3 separate regions of the Homo sapiens genome follow, and regions 1 and 2 are each linked to region 3. The links come from fine-mapping of genetic effects on gene expression. A gene starts in region 3. Each other region holds a variant in brackets. All regions are shown on one strand. Distances are from middle to middle. Region 1 has its middle 39 kb from the start of PTPN1. Region 2 overlaps PTPN1 (protein tyrosine phosphatase non-receptor type 1). Region 3 holds the start of PTPN1 (protein tyrosine phosphatase non-receptor type 1).

Region 1 (4,240 bases), 39 kb after region 3:
CAGCCCAGTAGCCTCCATAGCCACCCATGTGGCCACGTAAGCCAGAATTCAGCCTTGAGTCTTCCTTGAGTCTGCTCTGTTACCCCTCCTGGGCCACATCCAACTCATCCATTGCAATTTCAAACTGTCTTCAATCTGCCTGCTCGTTTTCACCACTGCCACCTCTCAGGTGCAGCCACCCGCTCCCTGTCCCTCCCTCAGGGAACTGTCCAGCCTGCTAATCAGTCTCCTGACTTGCGTCTTGCCTTCCTCCAGTAGTTTCTCCAAATGGCAGCAAGATGCTTTTAAAATGGAAATCAGATCATCTTCTTTTGAATGTCTTCCCACTGCATTTGGACTCAAGACCAGACTCCTAAGTGGTGATCTACAAGGCTCAGCAGCCTCAGGCCACCACTTGTCACATGTCATCCTTCCCAGGCACACTCTTAGTTCCTGAAATACACCAACCTCTTTTTCAGCTTGGGGCCTTTTGCATATGCTGTTCCTTCCCACAATCAGTTATTAGTCCATTGCATATCTTTCTAAGATGGTTTATGCATGTACAAGCAAATGTGAATATATATTCTGTTCCTCCCCATTCCCTTAAAATGTTATGCGTCCATGCTGTGTGTGAATAAATCTGTAGGATGAACTCCTAAAAGCAGAATTGCCTTGGTAACAGCTATGGTCATTTTAAACTTAATGAATAATGCCAAAGTCCTCTTCATGTGGAGTCGCATCAGTTTGCGTGTGCTCATTTTCTGACACCCTTACCAACACAGTGGATTGTCAATTTGAGACTTTGGTTAAACCAGTGCAATGGTGGGGGCGGGGTGGTGGTAGGAAATGGTATCTCATTTCTCTTTTTATACATGCAATTGAGCTTTTTTTTTTTTAGTCGGAGTTTCACTCTTGTTGCCCAGGCAGGAGTGCAATGGTGTGACCTTGGCTCACTGGAACCTCCGCCTCCCGGGTTCAAGCGACTCTCCTGCCTCAGCCTCCCAAGTAGCTGGGATTACAAGCATGCACCACTACACCTGGCTAATTTTGTATTTTTAGTAGAGACAGGGCTTCTCTATGTTGGTCAGGCTGGTCTTGAACTCCCAACCTCGGGTGATCCGCCCTCCTCGGCCTCCCAAAGTGCTGGCGTGAGCCACTGTGCCTGGCCAAAACTGAGCATCTTTTGGTATGCTTAAGAGCCATTTGCTTTTTCCTCTTTTTGATCTTTTTTTGACCATTTTCCCACTGATTTGTTGGTCTTTTCTTTTCTTTTGAGACAGGATCTCGCTCTGATGCCCAGGCTGGAGTGCAGTGGCATGATCATGGCTCACTGCAGCCTCAACTTCTTGGGCTCAAGTGATTCTCCCACCTCAGCCTCCCCAGTACCTGGGACTATAGGCATGCATCACCATGCCTGGCCAATTTTTGTATTTTTTGTAGAGATGGGGTTTTGCCATTTTGCCAGGCTATTCTCGAACTCCTGGGCTCAAGCAATCCACCCACCTAGGCCTCCCAAAGTGCTCGGATTACAGGTGTGAGCTACCGCGCCTGACCTAAAACATTTGTTAATTTGCCCTTCTTCTCTCACCCTCTAAGATGTTAGCTCCTTGAGGGCAGGGACCACACACATCTTGTTCACCATTGTATTCCCAGCAGCTTCCACAGTGCCTTGCACACAGGAGGTGTTCATGGTGGACATCTGTAGTTGTTTACACCTTCTTTTTTTTTTTTTTTTGAGGTGGAGTTTTGCTCTTGTTACCCAGGCTGGAGTGCAATGGCGCAATCTCAGCTCACTGCAACCTCCGCCTCCTGGGCTCAAGTGATTCTCCTGACTCAGCCTCCTGAGTAGCTGGGATTACAGGTGCGCACCACCATGCCCAGCTAATTTTGTATTTTTAGTAGGAACAGGGTTTCACCATGTTGGCCAGGCTGGTCTTGAACTCCTGGCTTCAAGTGATCCACCCACCTTGGCCTCCCAAAGTGCTGGGATTACAGGCGTGAGCCACCGCGCCTGGCTGCTTCTAGAAAATTTTTATGCCTATGCGAGTATATTTATATGTATATGCCAACATATTGTTTCACTTTTCATTTACAAAAATGATTCTACTATGCATTCTGTTCTGTCCCTTCACTTTTTCATTTAGTAATATCCTCAATCAATGACTCAGAGGAAAATGGATGAGGGATATGTACACACAAGTACACAGAAAAGGAAATACAAATAGCTCATAAACATGTGAAAGGATGTTCAACTTCCTTTATAATAAGAAAAATGCAAATTAAAAGTACACAGAGATCATTTCTCGCCTATCAGATTGGCAAAAATCCAAAAGTCTGATAACACACTGTGTTGGCAAGCCTGCAGGCAAAAAAAAGCACTTTTGTACCTTGATGGTGGAGGTGGAAATTGGCACAGTCCTATGGAGGACAATTTGACCATATCTGTTGAAATGACAAATATATATACCCTTTGACGCAGCAGCCACAGATTCTGAAAATGTATCCATCAGATATTCTTGCTCAAGTGCAAAATGACATATATCTGGGATCATGTTTAGAGCAGAGGTTTATTGTCTATCTCCCTCATTAGAAGGGAGGACCTATGAG[G/A]GCAGGAACCTTGTTGGTCTTGCTCCCCCATGACTGCCCCAGCTCCTAGCACTGTCTTTGAACATAGTAGATGTCACAAAGACACCCCTCACTCAATATCTACATGCTCCTCTACCTTTCCCAGCCTTCCTTGCAGTAAGGTTGAAAGTACATGGCTCATTTATGCCCAATGGGATATGCAAAAGTGATGGAAGCTACTTTCAGGTCTGGCCGTTGAAAAATTCCATGTTACCTTCTAGCTCTCTCTTTGCCTACAGTGTTCATCTCTAAGACTTCCTTTTCCAGATAAAGAAGGTGAGGTAGGAGATCAGTAGGACTTATTTTCCAAGCACAAATCACAGCCCTGCTGATCAAAACAGGATGCAGTAAAGAAACTCGCTGAAACAAGCAGATGGTGACAAAAGTGACCTCTAGTTGCCCTCACTGCTCATAGCATAAAGACACTCCCACCAGCACCAGGACAGTCTGCAAATGCCATGGCAATGACCTGGAAGTTACCTTATATAGTTCTGGGAACCCTCTGCCACTTTTCTAGAAAATTCTGAATAACCCGCCCCTTCATTAGCATATAATTAAGAGTGGGTATAAATATCGGTAGCCCTGGTCTGCAAGGACTACTGCTCTGGGCTGTGGTCTTTGCTGCTGTTCTGGGCTGCTCTGCCTATGGAGTAGCCCTGCTCTGTCTACGGAGCAGCCCCTCTGCTGCACACTGCTGCTCTAATAAACTTGCTTTCTTTCACTGTTGGCTCACTCTTGAATTCTTTCCTGAGTGAAGCCAAGAACCCTCCCAGGCTGAGCCCTGATTTTGGGATTCACCTGCATCAGCCTGTTCCAGATGGAGAAAAGTACTCAATTTGTATCATAATGCAAAAGCAAGAAATGAACCTTTGCTGTATTAAGTCACTGCAACGCTGGCTTTGTCCCTGCAGTATAGCCTATTTTATTCTGACTAAAGTACTGTAGTAGGTGCTCAATAAATACTTGTTGAATAAATGTAAGCTGTAATGATCATTCTTGTGCCCTGGATGAGCTACCATGTTGCTGGGTACATATTTAATACTTTGGTAGATAGCACAAACTGTCCTCCAGAAAGTTTGCATCATTTTTTTTGTTTGTTTTACGTTGTTTGAGACAGGGTTTCACCCTGTCACCCAGGCTGGAGTGCAGTGGCACAATCACAGCTCACTTTAGCCTTGACCTCCTAGACTCAAGTGATCCTCCCACTTCAGGCTCCCAAGTAGCTGGGACCACACACATGCACCACCACATCTGGCTATTTTTTTTTTTTTTTTAATTTTTTGTAAAGACGAGGTCTAGCTATGTTGCCCAGGCTGGTCTCGAACTCCTGGGCTGAAGTTATCCTCCCACCTTGGCCTCCTAAAGTGCTGGGATTACAGGTGTGAGCCATTGCACCGGGCCAGTTTGCATTAATCTATACTCCCACCAACAGACATAATGATAACTCACACACAGAGATCTTGCTCTGTTCCAGGCACTATGCTCAGTGCTTTGCACATATGAAATAAATTCATGCCCACAACAGACCTATGTGGTAGGTACGATTATTGTCCCCATTTCACTGATGAGGCAATGGCAGCACTCGGAAATTAAATGACTTGCTCAAAGTCACACAGCTGGTAGGAAGGGGAGTGTT
Region 2 (4,240 bases), 66 kb before region 3:
AAATCACTAATTCCAAGTACACACAGAGTCACCTTCCACTCTCTACCTCTAAGAGGAACATTCATTCTCAGACTTTCTCCCAGGGTCCACACACCCAGTCAACAAATACCACACCCTGGGGCCAGGCCCTGGGCTTGACACTGAACCTGCAGGGTGCGCCTGCTTAGACTTCATTTCCCTTCGGATTGAAGAGTCCCCTCACCTCTTTTCTCCCTATCACTTCCACTGTCTACATGGTTACAACTGGTTTCTCTCTGTCTCACGAGTCACAATGATGCTGGGCAGCCACCCATAAAATCTTGTCATAAAGCCCTGCAAGGCCTCCCGTGAAAAAGTGAACAAGGAACAGCAGGTGAGGCACTGGCTCTGGGCAACTTTCAGACGGGGGCTTCAAGATGATCTGGAGGTTTCAGAGGATTGTCACTTTAGAGAAAAAAGTAGCAGACTTGGTCTCCAAAGACTGGTGACTCCAAGGTGTGGCTCAACACCCAGCTGAAGAGGCAGTCAATGCGAACGGCATCAGCCCATGAACCGAGTGTGTCCTACGTGCTGGCGCTGCGCTCTCCCACCAGCTGCTCCAGGCAGGCACTCCCATCCATTTTCCGATGAGGAGGTGGATGTTTGGAGGCAGAGAGTCCATGCTGAGAGCCTGCTGCAGACACGTTTGAAAGGTGGACCCCAGCCCTTGTCCCAGAATGTCTCTTCCGTGGCTGGGTCTGCCCCAGAGGAACAGAAGCAATGGCCTGGCGTCTGTTTCCAGCTCTGCTCCTTCCTTGAGGCTTCTGGCGGCTGTGATCAAAAGGCAGCCCTCACTGGGGGGAGTACGCAACATCTTCAATGACCTAAGAGCTCCTAGTAAATGGGAACCAGTCACTTGGTAAGCAAGGCCCTGAGAGGGAAAGGGCTCTGGAAGTGAAAGTCTCCTAACATGGGCCCGGGAAGACAGCCACAGACAGGAACCATACCAGCCTGGAGAGTTTCCCTGTGGCCCAGTGCCAGGGCCACCTGGCGAGCAGCTGATGGCAGAAGGATTCAGGCCAGAGATCTGCTCATGATGCCTTCCTTCACTTGACGAATGTCCACACTATGCCAATCATGTGCCAGTCACTGTGCCAGGGAGGCGGGGGCAAAGACACCACCTCACCCTCACAGAGCTCATGGCATAGTTACTAGGACCTCCCCCAACTCTGCTGGGATGAAAATAATACATATTTAACCCTGCCTCAGCCATTAAATACACTAGTAAATAATATTTAATGTTCATTAAATATTAAATACAGTATCTTGGCACAGAACAAGGAGAAATTTGTGTATGTTAGGATAATTGCTAGACTCACACTAGGCAATTCCATCATTCTTTCCTCTCTAGAAAATGGTATCCATATAACCTTAATGACATTAAAGAAGAAGAAATACCTCTTCTATTTGGTGGGTGGAGGCAGGTGGGGAAGAAAAGGACTTAAAATGTATTTTTAAAAAATTATTATTATTATTTTGAGACAGAGTCTTGCTCTGCCGCCCAGGCTGGAATGCAGTGGCATGATCTCGGCTCAATGCAACCTCCGCCTCCTGGGTTCAAGCAATTCTCTGCCTCAGCCTCCCGAGTAGCTGGGATTACAGGTGCCCGCCACCACGCCCGGCTAATTTTTTTTTTTTTTGTATTTTTAGTAGAGATGGGGTTTCACCATCTTGGCCAGGCTGGTCTTGAACCCCTGGCCTCGTGAACCACCCACCTCAGCCCCTCAAAGTGCTGGGATTACAGGTGTTAGCCACCGTGCCCGGCCGTTAAAATGTATTTTAAAATTGAATAAGAAGCAAGCATGCCAAATGCAAGTTTTCCTTTAATCCTTGAAGGTGTGGGTTACCGCCCACTGACACCCTCCCTCACACCTGCTCACCTCTTTCACAAGGAACTCATTCCAGCCTTGTGCTAGAACAGACAGCTATGGCTGAGAAAAGCCTTTTAAAAACAAAGTCTGTTGGAGCAAACAGATCCTAACATCAAAACCTCTGAGCTGGCTGTATTCACTCTGCCAAGCAAAAAGCGCACAGCTCTTCTGCTCTGTTGAAATTCAGTTTCCCTCAACAAGCAAATAGTTTCCCAGAAGTCACTCTTAATGTCAGGCTTGCAAATGCTAAAAAGCATTCTTTTAAAAGGCTACTGCATAAATCCTCTAGCACATTCCAACACACTGCCCATGTTACTCCTGAGAATCTTCCAGAAAGCACCTCCATCCACCGTACTCAGAACCCTCTGCCCCATCAGGGCTATGGCAGGGCTGGTGACTCCGGCGCGGTCACCACCAGAGGGCAGAAAGCACTCACATCAGCTGCACTGCTACCATCCTCAAGAGCCAGGCAGCCCGAACCCCTTGCCTACGTCCTGGTAACCTGTGCTACATTCTAGATCTTACTTCTACTATTTTTTTTATTTATTTATTTTTGAGACAGGGTCTTGCTCTGTCACCCAGGCTAGAGTGCAGTGGTGCAAGCATAGCTCACTGCAGCCTTGAACTCCCGGGCACAAGCAATCCTCCTGCCTCAGCCTCCTGAGTAGCTGGACTATAGGGGAGCACCACGATGTCTGACTAACTG[T/C]TTTTGTTTTTTTGTAGAGACGGGGGTCTCACTATGTTGCCCAAGCTGGTCTTGAACTCCTGGCCTCGAGTGATCCTCCTGGCCTCAGCCTCCCCAAGTGCTGGGATTAAAGACGTGAGCCACCGCACCTGGCTTACATCAACTATGAAATGAATGGCAGGAGCCATGATGATTAAAAAGTAGTACTTGAGAAGGGGAGGCATGGGGTAACCCAGAAGCAGATCCCTCCCCACCCACACAGCCCTGGAGCCCCACTCCACATGGTCTCCCTACGGCTCCACCTTCCCTTCAGATAAAGCCCGTGCTACACACCCATGGTAACTGCTAACCCTTCCCGTATAGGACCTCCCAGAACCCTCGCAAAACCTGAGTTTGACAGAAGAGGAAACGGAGACACTGTGATGAGCTAGTAAGGTGGGGCCAGGATTCGACCCCAGTTAGGTTCTAGAGGTTGGTGGCTGGCCACTCTTCACTGGTGCCCCCAGGTGCTGCCGCGCACTCCCTCCACTGTTCCCCAGAATGACATGAACACCCCCAAGTTACGGATCCAGGGGAATTATTCCAAAGCCCCAGGAGCAGCGCGTTCAGCGGCAGTGCTGCTTGCCACAATGCCTTGCCATGTTCCAAGACCAACTTTTACCAAGCAAGTAGCTGGTGTTATAAACTCTTCCCACAACAAAAAAACCCAAGACCTGGCCCAGAAAACTTTCACTAGCTATGAAACTGGAGTGAGCCCCTATACCCCTTCTTCCCTCTCTTCAGACTCGAAGACTGAGGACCACAAAGAAGGCAGCATGCTTCACTGGGACTTGCAGGCTGCCGCTCCAGTCCCTCTGCAGCTGCACAAGCAGGAACCAGTCTTTTGGGTAAGAAACTCTCCTTTCCCTAAGAACTGGTGTTAACTGTTGTTAAAGGTCAGAGAGAGCACTGTGGCCTCCACCCTCCCTGGGCACTTGGTAGGTACACAAGTAAGCTCCGCTCACCACAGTGCCCAAACCACATCTTGCTCGGGGTATACAAAAGCCAGGAACACTGACATTAGGTAATATCACCCAAGGGATAAAGGAAGAGGCATGTGAACCAGTAGCCGCCTGAAGTGCTGAAGTGTGTGCTATACTCACTGTAAGGTTTTCCAATTCTAGCTGTCGCACTGTATAATATGACTTGATATCTTCAGAGATCAATGTTAATTTCAAATTTGTGTCTTCAAAGATCATCTCTTTTTCTTCTTTTTGTGGCCAGTATTGTGCGCATTTTAACTGGGGAAACAAATAATAGTGAATTATTGTGAGCAATATGGCAGTTTTTCTATGGCAGGAGGCTTGGAGCACATCCCACAAGCTTCATGATAACTCAAAGGCCTGGGGGTTTCTGAACATGGAAGCCATGGTCAGCACAGATGCCTGCCTCATGGGGAGATGGGGGTGGGGGCACGAAGCTGCTGACCGGGGCAGGTTGTGCAGACAGGGCTCAGACTTCCAAACCCATCGGCTCCCCGGTCAAACGTGGCAACGGGATCCTGCAGGGCTCTGACGCTTTCTCACCGTCTACGAGGTGAAGCCAGATTGAACAAAAGGCTTTGAAACTCCTCTGTGTAGCCATTTCAAACATTACCCAGGACCTGATCAGGCTGCTGGCATAGAAT
Region 3 (4,240 bases):
GACTCAAGGTCATCTGAACTCTGTTTCAGAAAACGCTACAGTTGTATGACAAAGAGCTACTTTTACACTTAGGAGAAAAGCTTCTGATTTCAAGATCTTAGAAAAGAAAAATATCCATACAGTGGAGGTGAGAAAAGCTGGCCCTGACAATTCTCTAAGACCAAAAGAAACTACCTCAGGGAATGTGGCAATCCATTAAGAAGCAGTGAAAATCTCAACACCTTGACTAACTTGTGGGGTTTAATTGTGGCAGAAAAACTTAAGAACAATGAAGGAAATGAATTGAAGACTGACACACTCCATGCTAGTTGCATGCTGAATACAATTTTAACCATGCTTGGGTGACAGGTCAACCCACTCTGGCTTAAAATTGTAAGAAATAAAATTCAACTAAGAACTAAGTTACAATACGTATTTCTTGTTGTCAACTCAGTCAATTTCAGTGGAAAAGACTTCTCTCCACAATGCTTCCACTGTGATGGGGTGTATCATAATCAACTCCAACACTTCAGACCAACAATTTTCATTTAAAGACATTTTAGACTCTACTGCATTAAACTGATGCAGAAAATTTGTCTACACAGTCTCAAAGTCCCTTATGGAATTCATTCAGCTAATTCAGAGACCAGATATGGCATACAAATTTTATATACTGATCAATCATACTTATTAGTATATAGATTACAGTGGTTAGAAATATTAGTCTAGCAGAAACTAATATACACACTACAGTCCAAATAAAAAGAATCCTGTCAAATAAGCTTGATGTAAATCCACATGAAAATCAAGGCTGCCAAAAAAAAAGGCTTTTGTTAGTCAAGCATACCAAAGAACTGCTTAAACCTTTTTTCCTTTCTAAGCGGAGCTCAAAATAGATTTTAATACTACAGCTGATGGATCTCACAATTTGCCTTTTGAGCCTATAAGCTGAAAACAGAATCATCTGCTGTCTCCCTTTACACAAGTAACAAAATCTCTCTATTCTGTATATCGCTTATTTAAGATACTGTGCAAGTGTGGTTTTAGTTAATCTTAACAACCCCCGCAATGACATTTAATTGGGAGTATGTATCTTATTCAGCTGCTTGTGAAAGGAAGAGCTCTTTGTGTTTTTAACTACTTGTTTTATAGATATATGAGAAACCCTCCTTTCCTAACTTTTTAACACACAAGGAGATGACTCCTAAGACAAGGTCATCTCTGCCACGACCAAAGACTAAGCTGCTCATTGAGGAAAGATGCTATTTTAGAGAGGGTTAAAACGTTAACCTTCCTGAGTCCCTGCCTGAAAGAATAATATCATGGCCCCAATGGAGTGGGTACCGCAGGCCTCCTGGCTAGAAGGTTCTTTAGCCCCATATTCTCACGGCTTTCTGCTCCTCTTGGTTCAGCTCACAAAGCAAATGTCTCCTCCTTTGACAGGCCTTCCCTGATCCCCTTCTCTAAGACAGCCGGCCTTCTATGCAGTCACCCTGTACCCCGTTAGGAAGTCGTTCTCTTCACAGCACCTGTCACTATCTGAAATTATTTGCTTTTGTGTTTGATTGCCCTATTCGACTCTAGGCCCCACTAAGGCTAGGATCTTGCCTGTCCTGATTAGCAAACACCACCTCCAATGCCTAAGCGGTGCCTAGCACAGAATAAGCTTGCCAACTCCTATCCAATAAATGAATGAACAGAAAGGGGAAAGGGGACTGTCATCTCTGGGACTCGACGCACACTGAGACTAGGGGAAAGGAAATGTGAAGGAGGGACGGGGGGAGTAACCTTTTCCCCCAGGGAGACAAAGGAAGAGAGTCTGAGGTGGTCCACTCCAGAAAAGGAAATAGTGGGGGTGCTAAATCACCCCAGGGGACAAAGAGTGGACAGGCAGGGGGCGGGGTCGGGGTGCGAGGGATTCGCGTTGAGAGCACAGACCGGCGGTCCCCCGGCTTGAGAGATCACCCGAGCTGGAGAACAGAAGGGAGGTGGGGGATCGAAGGGGGCTCCGACGCTGCGGCGAGAAACACGCCCGCCCCGGGGACAAAGGGTGGGGGGACGCAGTGCGTCGCTGTCCCATCGAATCCTCAAGCAGTAGGAGCGAGGCAGAGGGCAAGACCCAGAGGGAGTCTGGGGCCTGGAGGTCTGAGGGGATGTTCAAGCGGCCTAAGCGAAGGGCCCGCCACGCTCCGGGGCGCTCCCGCACCTGGTAAATGGCCGCCCAGCTCCCGGACTTGTCGATCTGCTCGAACTCCTTTTCCATCTCCATGACGGGCCAGGGCGGCTGCTGCGCCTCCTTCTCGGCCCACTGCGCCGTCTGCCGCTCTAGGCCGCGTCGCGCTCTTAGCCCCGAGGCCCGCTGCAATCCCCGACCCCTGCAGCTACCGCCGCCCTAGCCGCTGCTGCTTCTTCATGTCAACCGGCAGCCGGAACTACGCATCACGCCTGCCAGGGGCTCCGCCCCTGAAGCAGAAGGACCAATCAGCGATCGAGAATTTCGACAAGCACTTCCGCGGGGAGGAGCCGGGGGCGGTGCTAGGGGAAGTGGCCCCAGCACCGCGAGATATCTAATAGCGCGCGTTCCCTCCTCCGCTTTGGGGCTCTGGGCTCGGGCGCGGCGCGCGCCTGTTGCCTAGGCGACCCCGGGAGCCCCGCCCACGGCGCGTGGGCTCTCCAGGCCCGGGAGGGCATTGAGTTCCAGCCCCGACCCGGCCCGTTGAGTCACAGAGTGAGTGGCCTTAAAGTAGTCATGCACCTCCTTTCCTGCAGGGCCTGGGCCCCAGCCTCAGTAATCCAAGCTGGAGTATGGGAGGAGGGCACCGTGCTCTATTTCCTGCCTCCCAGCTCTGGCCAGATGTCTGCCCTTTTTTCATGAAACTCAGGAGTATCATGTTTCACTACGCTGCTGGGGAAGCCCACTGCTCTCTAAGGGTAGTGTCCCTGTCTGAAACGCAGAATTTCCACTTGGGTGCTGCAGGAATGAATGGATGGGGATGGAATGATTTTCAGTGTTTCCCGAAGTATCAAGGAACTCCTGCTCAGACTGAACTAAGCAGAGCACAAATTCCATGGTGCATTATGTTAAATAAAAATCATAGGAGCCCAGGCGCGGTGGCTTACATCTGTAATCCCAGCACTTTGGGAGGCAGAGGCAGGCGGATGTCTTGAGGCCAGGAGTTCCAGACCAGCCTGGGTAACAGAATCAGACCTCGTCACTACTAAAAGTTAAAAAATTAGCCGGTGTGGTGGGGCCCAGCTGCTGGGGAGGCTGAGGCAGGAAGATCACCTGAGCCCAGGAGGTGGAAGCTGCAGTGAGCTGTTTTGGCGCCACTGCACTCCACCTTGGGTGGCAGAGAGAGACCCTGTCTTGAAAAAAAAGGGCTGGGTGTGGTGGCTCACACCTGTAATCCCAGCACTTTGGGAGACCGACGCAGGTGGATCACCTGAGGTCAAGAGTCCGAGACCAGCCTGACCAACATGGTGAAACTCGGTTTCTGCTAAAAAAAAAAAAAAAAAAAAAAATTAGCCGGGCGTGGTGGCGCATGCCTGTAATCCCAGCTACTTGGGAGGCTGAGGCAGGAGAATCGCTTGAACCCTGGAGGCAGAGGTTGCAGTGAGCCAAGATAGCTCCACTGCACTCCAGCCTGGGCAACAAGAGCGAAACAAACAAACAAAAAAAGTTCTGGCATTAGGGTCTCAACAGACTAGACTAAAAATCAAAATGGAGTCACTCATGCTAAAGTTCTACATCATCAGACTGATAACCTTTCACAAAATCAGAAGAGAGATACACACCCTGATTTCCCAAGCAGACCGTTTTAATCAACATAATGAAGTTCCCTTTGCTTTAATCCTTACAACAAAAAGTAACCTGAAGTAACCCGATGCGACCAATCAGTTATTTCTCTCTTGTTCTGTTTCCCTGTTCCTGCCTTACAAGGAAAGTAACTTTGAAATGACCAATCTGCTTTTTGTTCTTTGTTTCTGCTTTTTTCAGCCCTTTTCTGTCTATAAAACCAACCTCCTCTGCTCAGCTCATTGGGACACTTGTGCTATTTTGAGGAATGAAGTCTTGCCCGATTCTAGAATCATGAATGAAGCCAATTAAGATGTTTAAGTTTGTTGTAATTTTGTCTTTTGACATTTACGGTCACCTGGGAAGTGTGTTGAATAATGCAGGTTCCTGGACCCATCGCCAAATGATTCAGATATCTTTGGTCTAGGGATGAGACCCGGAATCTGCATTTTCACCAACAACTCC

The links. PIP is the estimated chance that this variant, and not a neighbour inherited with it, causes the effect. A credible set is the group of variants that fine-mapping cannot tell apart.
Region 1: its variant is the best candidate, but not a certain one, in a credible set for the expression of PTPN1 in blood mononuclear cells (TOPMed, PIP 0.58).
Region 2: its variant is the best candidate, but not a certain one, in a credible set for the expression of PTPN1 in whole blood (TOPMed, PIP 0.58).

The regions. Positions count from the first base shown.
Region 1 is chr20:50,469,439-50,473,678 of GRCh38, reverse strand. No RefSeq gene overlaps it. Among named protein-coding and RNA genes, the nearest start is that of PTPN1, 39 kb to the left of the region's middle. The variant G/A (reference allele first, on the strand shown) is at 2,587.
Region 2 is chr20:50,574,131-50,578,370 of GRCh38, reverse strand. It overlaps PTPN1 (protein tyrosine phosphatase non-receptor type 1), which reads right to left. Exons shown (of 10, transcript NM_002827.4): 5 at 3,717-3,854. Among named protein-coding and RNA genes, the nearest start is that of MIR645, 9.5 kb to the left of the region's middle. The variant T/C (reference allele first, on the strand shown) is at 2,596.
Region 3 is chr20:50,508,536-50,512,775 of GRCh38, reverse strand. PTPN1 (protein tyrosine phosphatase non-receptor type 1) reads right to left here and starts at 2,393. Exons shown (of 10, transcript NM_002827.4): 1 at 2,186-2,393. The coding sequence starts at 2,248. RefSeq lists enhancers at 2,320-2,419, 2,632-3,219 and a silencer at 2,530-2,759.